Linked DNA regions of Homo sapiens: all the other regions are linked to region 1. The links come from fine-mapping of genetic effects on gene expression. A gene starts in region 1. Each other region holds a variant in brackets. All regions are shown on one strand. Distances are from middle to middle. Region 1 holds the start of SLC35C1 (solute carrier family 35 member C1). Region 2 has its middle 14 kb from the start of LINC02690. Region 3 holds the start of LINC02690 (long intergenic non-protein coding RNA 2690).

Region 1 (4,236 bases):
GGGCATAAGAGAGGAGAGACTGGAACAGATACGAATTGCTCTTAATGAACCAAAACCCACAGCTTCAAAGGAAAATCCCAGAGGTAGACTCTCCAGGTGGGGTTGAGGAGACCAGCTCAGTCCCTCTTGAGTCTTTCTTTCCCCAAAGGGATATTTTAGTTCCAAAAGTGACAAGGTAACCAGATGGTATCCTCCAGGTGGAGAACAGCCCACAACTAGGAAGCAGAGTCTCATTCCTTGAGGAGGAAGAGGGGAGTGCTAGTACCCGGGGCTAGTGGAAGAGGGTAGGGTGTGGGCCCGGCTCGTTGTGGGGCAGCTGTTTACTTCACTGCAGCCTGCAGCCCTCCCATTTCCCTACAGCCCACCCAGGGCTGCGCTCAGCTCCAGTGAAGGTTTGTGCAGTTAGGATCTGAGAGTTTAAGCGTACTATATAGGTTTTACCTTTTTATTCTGGAAATTTGCAAATGTACACAAAAGTAAGGAAACTCTTATAATGGGTCCTTGTGTATCTACGCCTAGCTACAACTATCAATGGCTTATCTTATTTAATCTATCAACCTTTTAAAAAAAATCTTTTTGAGGTCAGGCACGGTGGCTCACGCTTGTAATCCCAGCACTTTGGGAGGCCGAGGCCGGCGGATCACCTGAGGTCAGGAGTTAGAGAACAGCCTGGCCAACACGGCGAAACCCGGTCTCTACTAAAAATACAAAAAATAACCGGGCGTGGTGGTGGACGCCTGTAATTCCAGCTATTCGGGAGGCTGAGGCAGGAGAATCGCTTGAACCCGGGAGACGGAGGTTGCAGTGAGCTGAAATAGCACCACTGCACTCCAGCCTGGGCGACGGAGCGAGACTCCGTCCCAAAAAGAATAAATAAATAAAAATAAAAAATATTTTTGGTAAGTATTCTTAGTATTTTAAAACAAATCCCAGCCATGACATCATCTTACCCGTTAATTAAATGGCACTAATTAAATGGTGCTTGAAATATTACAAACATCTATGTTCGACCATACCACCTAGAGTTCTGGGCAAGAAGGTTGGGACCCACAGGTCAAGCCTAGCCCCTTAGTTTTACCATGAAGATAACTCAGGCCGTCGGAGAAAGTGGCCTGCCCAACGCAGGTGCTAGAGCGCGAACCAAGAGAAGTCGATCCTCCTGGTCTCCCCGGCTGCCTGGTGAGTGGCAGACCACAGGCTAGACTTCCCAGGCCCCGGCCCTGGAAGGGGCGGGGAACCCTCCCCCTCACTGCCAGCTGGAAGAATCCGAGCGGTCCCCGCACGCACTTCTGGAAGTGCAAGCCGGTAGCGCGGCGGGCCAGGGATACAGCCAAGTCCCGGGACGTGCCAGCTGCGGTAACTGAAGCCGGGTCCCGGGCGGGCGGGGGTACCAGGGACAGGAGTAGCCTTGGAAAGAGGAGAGGGCCTCCTCCCACGACCGTCCGGATCACCGCCTCTCCGCCGGCACCCCCGGGGCCCATGCCGCGAACAGGCCGGCGAGGCTGGCAAGGTGCCCGGGCCCGGGGCGGAAAGCAGGAAGTCGATCCCGCGGGCGCGGCCCAGGGTGCGGCGCTGCAGATGCAGCACGGGGTCGCGGGGCGGGCGCCCAGTGCACCGGAGGAGGTGAGCGCCAGGTCGCCTTCGCGGCCCGGGGACACAGGCAGGGACGCGGGAGCTGATGCGGCTGGACCGGCCGGGGAAACAGTATTTTCTGGAAGGGGTAAGAGATGCTGTCTTGAGCCTTTGGAATCTCGGATCCGGGCCGCCCAGAGGACCTCGACAGGAGCACAGGGAGGACAAACTGAAGTCCGAGAGAGGCGGCGTGGCCTCCGGCCTCGGGGAGCGCTGCCGGGGGTCTCGGGCTTGGGAGAGGGCCTGGGGGCGGTGAAAATGGGGGGAAAGGAGGGGACCACAACATTGTTATGGAAGAGTGAGCTCGGATTGGCAGAGGGACGCGGGGCTGCAACGCGAGTCTCCGGAGGTGGAGGGGTCCAGGCTGATGTAGCGCCGCCCGGGTCCTGGGTCGGGGTTCCGGGAAGTGGACCTGCGAGCCAAGCCTAGCCAAGTCGGGGGACGGAGGCTCCGGGGCGGACGGAGCTGAGGGTGGGCAGGCGAGGTTGATGGAGCCCTTCCAGGAAGCAGGGCGAGGCTCAAGCACCCAGAAAAACCTGTGGCTGCCGAGGTCCCCCGCCAGCAGCGGGCAGCGGAGCGCAGGGGCGGGGCTGGGGACTGGCGAACTCCGCCTCTCTGGGGCTGTCGCTTTAAGGGCAAGGCGGGGCGTGCGGGCCCTTTAAGGCCACGTGGGGGCGTGTCAGGAAGTGAGTCCAGGGCCCGCCTCCCGGGGAGTCGGCCTCGGATGTCCGGAGGCTCCTGGGCTGAGCCGGCGACAGAGCCCGGGAAGGCAGCGAGACGTGGGCGCCGGCCCAGCCCCCTCCCGCGTCCTTCAGCCCCAAGCCCCGAGCCCCTCTGACCCTTCCGCAGCCCTCCCTCCAGCCGCGCCCGGCCTCCGGCAGCTCCCTGTACGCCTCCCTCCCCCTGCCCGCCCCTCCCTCCCACAGCCGCCCATGACGCCCTCTCGGCACCTCTTCCCACTCTGCCACGCGTCCTTTTCCTGCACCTTCGCCCCGCGTACCTACTCCTGCCCCGCCCTGCCATTCCTCTCCCCTCCCTTCTCTCTGCGACCCCTCCCTGTTAGGCCCCAGCCTCTTCTCCCCTCACAGGTCTTCTCTGTCCTGGCCTCACCGCCTTATCCTATTCCTCTCCCTTGCCCTGTGTCTTGTCTCAGAGCCCCCTCGGGGTGGGAGTAGGTTGTGGAGCAGCACAACTGGGCTCACCCCAAAGCAGAACTTCTCAATCCATGAGGACAATGGGGAGGCCTTTAGGCCAGCCCACATGTGACAATGGAGGGCTGCGGCTTCCTTGCGGAGAGCACAAGTGAGCTCACTGCCCTGGACTCCAGGGAATCAGAGTTCTGGCCGCGGGGTGACCCAGCTCCTCTGCTACCATGAATAGGGCCCCTCTGAAGCGGTCCAGGATCCTGCACATGGCGCTGACCGGGGCCTCAGACCCCTCTGCAGAGGCAGAGGCCAACGGGGAGAAGCCCTTTCTGCTGCGGGCATTGCAGATCGCGCTGGTGGTCTCCCTCTACTGGGTCACCTCCATCTCCATGGTGTTCCTTAATAAGTACCTGCTGGACAGCCCCTCCCTGCGGCTGGACACCCCCATCTTCGTCACCTTCTACCAGTGCCTGGTGACCACGCTGCTGTGCAAAGGCCTCAGCGCTCTGGCCGCCTGCTGCCCTGGTGCCGTGGACTTCCCCAGCTTGCGCCTGGACCTCAGGGTGGCCCGCAGCGTCCTGCCCCTGTCGGTGGTCTTCATCGGCATGATCACCTTCAATAACCTCTGCCTCAAGTACGTCGGTGTGGCCTTCTACAATGTGGGCCGCTCACTCACCACCGTCTTCAACGTGCTGCTCTCCTACCTGCTGCTCAAGCAGACCACCTCCTTCTATGCCCTGCTCACCTGCGGTATCATCATCGGTGAGTGGCAGCTGGGGCCACGGGGGATAGAGTGGTCATGGGGACTGAAGCAGTGAAGAACAACTCTTCTAGGCATCCTAGGACTTCATCTGTCCCAGCTCCTTTGGTGCAGCAGTCATAGGAGAAAGAGCCTGGGGGCACAGAGAGAGCAAGTAACTTACTAAAGGTCACCCAGCAAGTTAGGAGCCCAGCCGGGGCAAGAACAATAGTAATAATAATAGTAACAACAGCAGCAAAAGCAACTGACATTTGTTGAGTGATTAAAATGTGCCAGGCACATGGATCTTAGCCATATTAACTCAGCTAATCTTCATAACAAGATGGGATTATAATCCACATTTTACAGAGGGAAAAACCAAGGCACAGAGAAGTTAACTAACTTGTCCAAGATCACCCAGCTAATAAGTGGCAGAGCTGGGATCTGAACTCAAGCAATCTGGCTTCACAGTTCACATGCCCGACCACTGTACTTTATTGTTTCTCAAGAGCTCAGGTGTCCTGATTTCCCAGCCAGTGCTCTTAGTAGAGGACAATACGTCTTTTAATAAATATACCATCACTCTCTGCCAGCTCAGGATAGCGCCTGAGACAGTAGCAAGCAATATGCTTTGAGAGGCCTCAGCTGTCTTCCTGGACTTGACCCTCAGAAAATAATAATTATTGATGGGGAAATTATGCTAATTATTTCACATATAGC
Region 2 (4,236 bases), 68 kb before region 1:
GCTATCTGGGGTGGGAGTGGAGGGAGAGAGAAGGAAGCTAAATTGTGTAGGAAACATCCCAAGTTAATTCTGTTTATCTGTTTAAGAAGAAACTATTTCAAATGTATATGTATTTTTTTAATTTTAAAAAAGTGTCTTATGACTTTTCAGAGTTTACAGAGTTAATGGTTCTATATTTCAGCCTTGAGTTCATTTTGTTTTTTCTTCCCCCTTGAGATAATTAGCCATAAGCGTACCTGAGTACATTTTTCATGTCAAGAAGACAATGGCTTCAAAGGAAGGGAAAGGGCAGCCCCACAGGAGGCCCAGAAAAGAAGGCCAGGTGAAAAAAGCAAAGCCTCCCAGGGAAACATTCACATTTCCTGAATGATCTGTCATCAAAAATGCATGTGCATGCAGAGGGGCAACCAACAGAGTCAGGGCAAACGCAGCCAGGCTGGCCCCTGCTCCCAACTGTGCCCGGAGGACTTTGAAACACACCCATACCCAGGACAAAAGCAACCCTCCTTCCCGAAATCACTGCCACCTATCTGGCAAAACCACAAGTCCAAAGGAAAATCTTGGATTTGGCTTTTTTTTCAGGCTCCTAAATTTAAGCAACATTAATTTTTTAAAGGCCTGTCCTGCTCTCTATACTGCAATGGAAGATTCAGGGGAGCAGCATTTCATGGTAAGATTAGAACCAGGCCATTCTGTTCTTAATCCTTACCTTGGAGTTGATGTGAAAAGGTGTTGGCTTCACACTTGGATAGTCCTGGGACTGGGCCCAGTATTCCCTTGTTGTATGTTCTGGAGCATTGCTGTGAGAAGCCATTATTTTTTGCTTATGTCCCTGGGGCTTTATTTACTTCACCTCGTGTTTAATCTTCCCAGCAACCCTATGAGGGAAGTATATTACCTCATTTCAAGGGTAAGGAGATTAGTCTCAAAAAGAAACACACACTCCAAATAACAGATGGGATTCAAACCTTGGCCTGCCCAATTCCAGAGATCTGCTCTAATATGGTTTTGCTGTGTCCCTACCCAAATCTCATCTTGAATTCCCACTTGTTGTGGGAGTGACACGGTGGGAAGTAACTGAATCATGGGGACAGGTCTTTCCCAGGCTATTCTGATGATAGTGAATAAGTATCATGAGATCTGATGGTTTTTAAAAGGGGAGTTTCCCTGCACAAGCTCTTCTTCTCTTGTCTGCTGCCATGTGAGATGTGACTTTCACCTTTCACCACAATTGTGAGGCTTCCCCAGCCACGTGGAACTGTAAGTCCATTAAACCTCTTTCTTTTGTAAATTGCTCAGTCTCGCATATGTCTTTATCAGCAGTGTGAAAACGGACTAACAAATACTCTTCCCTGTACACCGCTTCTATCAGTTACATACTGCCATAATAATTCTGTGAAATAAATAATCACAAAACCTAGGTGGTATGGAATAGTAAGGCTTTATTGATCACAGGTCTGGGATGGTTGGCTAGGTGGTTGTGCTGATCATGGCTGGGCTCACTAACATGCTTAGGGCTTGGTTGCCATCGACTGACCTAGGCTGGCCTCAACTGGGACAGCTGGGATGACTCAGCTCTGCTCCAAGTGTCTCTAATCCTAGCCCAGGCATGTTCTCATGGCAATGGCACAGGTACAAGAGAGAAGGCAAACATGATTAGTTGCACAAGTATTTCTCAAGCTTTTGCTTACATCACATTTGCTGTTGTTATCCTGTTGGCCAGAGCAAGTTATATTGCTGAGCCCAGAATCAGAAAAGGACATTGCAGATGAATGGCAAAA[G/A]GTGTGCGTACAGGGAAGGGTAGGGATTTGGAACCAGTTTTGCAATCTACCACATGATCTTGGGTAAGTTACAGTCCCCTCTCAGAGCCTCTGCTCCTGCATTTTTTAATAGGATGGTATCTACTTCATAGGGCAGCTGAGATCATTAAATAAGACAAGCTGTGTGAAACACTAGCAAATTGAGAACTACCCTTCCTACTGATGTATTTCAAGTGTACAAGCCTGGGGGTGTTTGTACACATTAACAGAGATACATGAAAACCTCCATGTCTATTTCCAGAGTCCACAGAATTCTACCCAAGTCTCAGAGGTGAGATGGTCCAATCACTGAGATGATAAACAAGAATTGTAGAAAGAGAATAAATCAAGGAAGAAAACAATAAGTAAATGATGTAATTAAAGTTACTGTTGAATAACCTATCAAGGAGAGAATGAGTCAGTGGCAAGTTGAAGCGATGAATCAGGCACAATGTCATGTTTCTAGAATTCTTGTCTATTTCAAGAAAGCCTGATGTCCCAGTTAAAAGAGCACCTTGAGCCTGTAGCAACAACATCTGGAAGGAAACACTCTTGTAATTTTAATTCCTCCTGGGTGCCACCACTAACGACAGGAGCAGCACCCGGGTAGCACAGTTAGGCACTCCATAAAATCTCTCGTGGGAGGAGCTGAAAACTACAACATTACCTCAAATGTATTCAAGGGGATTTTATTTTTTATTTTTATTTTTGCTGGATTTATTTATTTATTTTTTTTTTTAATTTATTTTTTTATTGATAATTCTTGGGTGTTTCTCACAGAGGGGGATTTGGCAGGGTCATGGGACAATAGTGGAGGGAAGGTCAGCAGATAAACAAGTGAACAAAGGTCTCTGGTTTTCCTAGGCAGAGGACCCTGCGGCCTTCCGCAGTGTTTGTGTCCCTGATTACTTGAGATTAGGGATTGGTGATGACTCTTAACGAGCATGCTGCCTTCAAGCATCTGTTTAACAAAGCACATCTTGCACCGCCCTTAATCCATTTAACCCTGAGTGGACACAGCACATGTTTCAGAGAGCACAGGGTTGGGGGTAAGGTCACAGATCAACAGGAACCCAAGGCAGAGGAATTTTTCTTAGTGCAGAACAAAATGAAAAGTCTCCCATGTCTACTTCTTTCTACACAGACACGGCAACCATCCGATTTCTCAATCTTTTCCCCACCTTTCCCGCCTTTCTATTCCACAAAGCCGCCATTGTCATCCTGGCCCGTTCTCAATGAGCTGTTGGGCACACCTCCCAGACGGGGTGGTGGCCGGGCAGAGGGGCTCCTCACTTCCCAGTAGGGGCGGCCGGGCAGAGGCGCCCCTCACCTCCCGGACGGGGCGGCTGGCCGGGCAGGGGGGCTGACCCCCCCCACCTCCCTCCCGGACGGGGCGGCTGGCCGGGCGGGGGGCTGACCCCCCAACCTCCCTCCCGGACGGGGCGGCTGGCCGGGCAGAGGGGCTCCTCACTTCCCAGTAGGGGCGGCCGGGCAGAGGCGCCCCTCACCTCCCGGACGGGGCGGCTGGCCGGGTGCGGGGGCTGACCCCCACCACCTCCCTCCCGGACGGGGCGGCTGGCCGGGCGGGGGGCTGACACCCCCACCTCTCTCCCGGGCGGGGCGGCTGGCCGGGCAGAGGGGCTCCTCACTTCCCAGTAGGGGCGGCCGGGCAGAGGCGCCCCTCACCTCCCGGACGGGGCGGCTGGCCGGGCGGGGGGCTGACCCCCCCACCTCCCTCCCGGACGGCACGGCTGGCCAGGCGGGGGGCTGACCCCCCCACCTCCCTCCCGGATGGGGCGGCTGGCCGGGCGGGAGGCTGACCCCCCCCCCACCTCCCTGCCGGACGGGGTGGCTGCCGGGCGGAGACGCTCCTCACTTCCCAGATGGGGTGGCTGCCGGGCGGAGAGGCTCCTCCCTTCTCAGACGGGGCAGCTGCCGGGCGGAGGGGCTCCTCACTTCTCAGACGGGGTGGTTGCCAGACAGAGGGTCTCCTCACTTCTCAGACGGGGCGGCCGGGCAGAGACGCTCCTCACCTCCCAGACGGGGTCTCGGCCGGGCAGAGGCGCTCCTCACATCCCAGATGGGGCAGCGGGGCAGAGGCGCTCCCCACATCTCAGACGATGGGCGGCCGGGCAGAGACGCTCCTCACTTCCTAGATGTGATGGCGGCTGGGAAGAGGCGCTCCTCACTTCCTAGATGGGATGGCGGCCGGGCGGAGACGCTCCTCACTTTCCAGACTGGGCAGCCAGGCAGAGGGGCTCCTCACATCCCAGACGATGGGCGGCCAGGCAGAAACACTCCTCACTTCCCAGACGGGGTGGCAGCCGGGCAGAGGCTGCAATCTCGGCACTTTGGGAGGCCAAGGCAGGCGGCTGCTCCTTGCCCTCGGGCCCCGCGGGGCCCGTCCGCTCCTCCAGCCGCTGCCTCCCGGGCGGCG
Region 3 (4,236 bases), 52 kb before region 1:
ACCCCCTGAGGGCAGCTCAGGGGTGCCGTTGCATCTGCTCTGCCATCTACAACAGGAAATGTTGAGGAAGAATGCTTGAGACCTCACAGTCCCTGTAACTCACTGATCCCCAAAACCACCCCTGAACCTCAGAGGAACTTGCTTCCCCCTCTGGTCCCCAGGCAACACTGATTCTCCCAAGCTAGGTCGGAGCAGGGAACCTCACTCTTCCTCCACCTGAGCCCTCTCCCCTTCCCAGTGGCCATGCTGTTTTCTGCCGTCACCCTCCCCAGTAATGGCCTCGCTCACATCTCCTCTCAAGAGGGTCCCAAGGTACATGGGTCAAGTGAAATCAGGGTTGCCCCAGACCTAAGAACAGTGGTGCCCCCAGAGGGAAGCTGGAGCCCTGTGGCAGAGGTGGAGGAAGAGGAGAGGACCAATCAGTTGTTATGGCAACCAGGGCTCCCAAGATGGAGGGAAGGGAAAAGGCGGCCCTGCTCATCAGTTGCCATGGCAACCCAGAGCCTCCAGGCCAGCTTTGAAAACAAAAACCACACACACCCCACTTAACAAAGAAAGTACCCAGGACTCCTCGGTATGCTCCGCAATCCAGAGCGCCAAACGGAACAGGTCAAGGTCTGGTCTCACGATTGACTTTGTAGACTTTTTTTAGGGGCAGAAGGGCTGCTTTTTTTCTGAGAAAATAGAGAGCCAGGGCTTGATAACCCGTAGGGTCACTCAGCAAGCATTTACTGAGCCTACTACATGCCAGGGCCACAGCGACAAATTAAGATCCAGACCCACTTTCAAAGGAGGAGAACAGATATTTCCACATCAGTACGAGACTTGCTGGAAGTCTTCCCTGACGACGGTTTGGCAGTGTTCATTAAAAATTTTAAGTGGATGTTCTCTGTGACCCAGCAATCCCATTTCTAAGACGCTGCCTGCAGAAATATTTGAATCTGAAGGTGATCTTTGCAGCATTATTTACAGCAGTAGATAATGGAAAACAACCTAAATGTCCCGTAATGGAGGCCAGTTACATCAATTTTGGTACATGCATACACGTTGAAAATGCAAAGGCGTACGGGCGGAAGAACACATAAGGAACCATTAGCAGCCATTACCCAGGAGTCGCAGGACTGACCAATAGGGTTAGAGAAGGGGGGCGTTTCACTTTACTTCTCAACCATTTGGAGATGTTACAAGAGTGCGCTTCCCTCCCGCCCCCAAGAGAGACGGGCTCTTGCTTTGTCACCCAAACTGGAGTGCAGTGGCACATCACGGCTCACTGCAGCCTTGACCTTCCAGGCTCAAGTAATCCTCCCCTCAGCCTCCTGAGTTCAGCCTCCTGAGTAGCTGGGACTATAGGTGTGTGCCACCTGCCCAGTTAATTTTTTGTATTTGTTTAGTTTTTTTGTTTTTGGGGGTTTTTTTTTCCTTTTTTTGAAATGAAGTATTACTCTGTCATCCAAGCTGGGGTGCAGTGGCACTATCTCGGCTCACTGCAACCCCCGCCTTTCGGGTTCAAGCAATTCTTGTGCCTCAGCCTCCTGAGTAGCTGGGATTACAGGTACCCGCCACCACGCCTGGCTAATTTTTGTATTTTTTAGTAGAGACAGGGTATCGCCATGTTGGCCAGGCTGGTCTTGAACTCCCAACCTCAGGTGATCCACCCGCCTGGGCCTCCCAAAGTGTTTTTGTATTTTTTGTAGAGACGGATTATCGCTATGTTGCCAGGGCTAGTCTTGAACTCCTAGCTTCAAGCGATCCTCCGCCTTGGCCTCCCGAAGTGCTGAGATTACAGGAGTGATCTACCGCGCCTGGTTTACTTTTATAACTTAAGGAAAATGCTAAATGTTTGGGATGATTGGTCATACAATGGGATTTATAGTGATGAAAATCAAGTACGTTAACTGGTTATGATACAATGCAAAAAAAAAAAAAAAAAAAAAACCAGCACAGGCCAGGCGCGGTGGCTCATACCTGTAATCCCGGCACTTTGGAAGGTCAAGGCGGGTGAATCACTTGAGGTCAGGATTTCGAGACCAGCCTGGCCAACATGGTGAAAACC[C/T]GTCTCTACTAAAAATACAAAAATTAGCTGGGCATGGTGGCCAGTGCCTGTAATCCCAGCTACTCGGGAGGCTGAGGCAGGAGAATCTCTCACACTCAGGAGATGGAGGTTGCAGTGAGCCTTGATTGTGCCACTGTACTCCAGCCTAGATGACAGAGCAAGACTGTGTCTCAAAAAAAAAAAAAAAAAAAAGCACAAAGGCACTTACAATAGGAGCATCAAGGGAGAAGAGGAGAAGTAAGATGGGTGGGAAGAAGTTAGGTCTTGCAGGTTGCAGAAAATGTCATCATCAGGAGAAGGAGGAAAGGCATTTTAGCTGAAGAAATGGCAAAAGCAAAGGCTAGGAAGAGTAAAACTTCCAGTACTCTAGAAAATCCCAAGTGGTCTCTGTGGCAGAGGTGAAGAGATGTGACACAGACCTTACACAGGAGCAGCAGGAAGCCATCCCAAGTTTGAAAGTAGGGAAAGGACATGAGGAGAGCAGAACCTACAAAGATTTCTCCAGGCAGACGTGAAGGAGAAGTACTAGAGTCCAGGAGACACCTTAGGAAGCTACTGTAATCACACAGGAGTGACACGAGGAGGACCCCACAGGAGGGTGGACGGAGGGGAGAGGGAATTACAAGAAGTATTTCATATGTAAATGGCAGGAGTTTATGATGTTTCTCAATCCATAGACTTACTTTCTAGAGCTAGATGAGGTTCCTCAGCTTACAGATGGGGAAACCGAGGCACAGCTAGGGGAAGTGAGGGTTTCCAGGACAATAGGTTTATGACTTGAAGTTTTCTCTGGGCCTCCTGGGAGAGGAGGCTCAATCCTTCCAAGATCTGACCTTTTTTAACTCTTAATTCAGACAATTCCCAACTGAGGGGGATGGGCAAAGGTGAGGCTGTGGCCCAAGAAACCCCTGCAGGAAGAAAAGAGGGAGGAAGAGGACGACCCCCTTTGGTATCTGGATGCTGAGAGTCCCACTCTGAGATCCCAGCCTCCTTAAAGAGAGCACTCTTGGTCCCAGACTCGAGCATGGCTGTCCTGCAGGGAGCTTGGGGCAGTGCTCAGGCCCTGGGAGGGGTGTCTGGTGGTGGGCAAGGTGCCACCACGAGCTGGTCCAGGAAGTGCCTCTGTCACGTGCGTGCCTCCCCAGTGTCCTGTCCCACACCTGGCACCATGGCAGCACTGGGACAAGCACAGCGCTGGACTCAGGAGTCAAGAGCCCTGGAATCTACTGCCTTTCTGTCCTGCCACTCAGCAAGCTGGCCTTGAGCTTGCCACTAGCACTCCCATGTGATAAGGCCCATGAAGGCATGAACTCACACTGAGGAATGCTATGCTAAACACGGCCCTCTTCCTGGAGAGGAAAATGGAAAAGCCCCAGGCGGGGGAGTATTATCACAAAACTGTCAGCATGTCTACATTTATCAGATTAGTTAAAAGAAGAGACAGGGCTGATCGTAATCATTCCCGAAATATGTGCAACTATTCAGCTTGCAACTACTCCCACACACAGGCCTCTCATTTGACTTTCAAAAATTAAAACAAAAACACTCAGGACAGGTGCTGCTATTCCATTTTACAGGAAGCAGGTTCTGAGAGATTCAGACTCAATCCATATGTATTAAGTGTCCATCTCACGCCAGCGCCTGGACAGAGGTACCAGCAGCTGCTAGAATACAGTTAGATCCGTTCGCACTGGTCCAAAAAGATACTCCATGAGAACAGGGTTACATGTCAAACAAGCTTAGGAAATACTCCAGACTTTATCCCTCCCGCTTCTGATGAATCGCTGTGCCTATTAAATTACTCAAGGCCCTGCCTGGGAAGTCCTGCTTAGCTCTGTTCAACATCTCTCCCAAGTACATGGCCATGGAACCGCCTTTTACACACAACTTCTTAACAGCCTGCAGAACTTGGGTTTTGTGGAACACATTCTTGCAAATGCTGACCTGAGCAGTAGAAACAGAGCACTGAAGATGGGATTTCAGACAATCAGATGAAGAATACATCCTGGGGCAGCATCTTGCCTCTGTCTATCAACTCACAGCAGAAGCATCTGCCTTTTCCTGGGCTTCGGAATACAGCGAGCTGATGGGGCCAAGTTCTGTGGGACTGTTAGTTGTAGTCTCAGCTGGCAAGTCAAGGACCAAGCCTCGGCTGCATCAGAGCTTGTCTGTGGCTCTGGACC

What was found. PIP is the estimated chance that this variant, and not a neighbour inherited with it, causes the effect.
Region 2: its variant is fine-mapped to the expression of SLC35C1 in whole blood (TOPMed, PIP 0.98).
Region 3: its variant is fine-mapped to the expression of SLC35C1 in whole blood (TOPMed, PIP 0.92).

What each region holds. Positions count from the first base shown.
Region 1 is chr11:45,802,798-45,807,033 of GRCh38, forward strand. It overlaps SLC35C1 (solute carrier family 35 member C1), which reads left to right and starts at 2,352. Exons shown (of 2, transcript NM_018389.5): 1 at 2,352-3,539. The coding sequence starts at 3,005. RefSeq lists an enhancer at 1,147-1,306 and silencers at 1,477-1,646, 2,377-2,606.
Region 2 is chr11:45,734,995-45,739,230 of GRCh38, forward strand. No RefSeq gene overlaps it. Among named protein-coding and RNA genes, the nearest start is that of LINC02690, 14 kb to the right of the region's middle. The variant G/A (reference allele first, on the strand shown) is at 1,782.
Region 3 is chr11:45,751,163-45,755,398 of GRCh38, forward strand. LINC02690 (long intergenic non-protein coding RNA 2690) reads right to left here and starts at 446. Exons shown (of 2, transcript NR_183774.1): 1 at 349-446; 2 at 1-46. The variant C/T (reference allele first, on the strand shown) is at 2,054.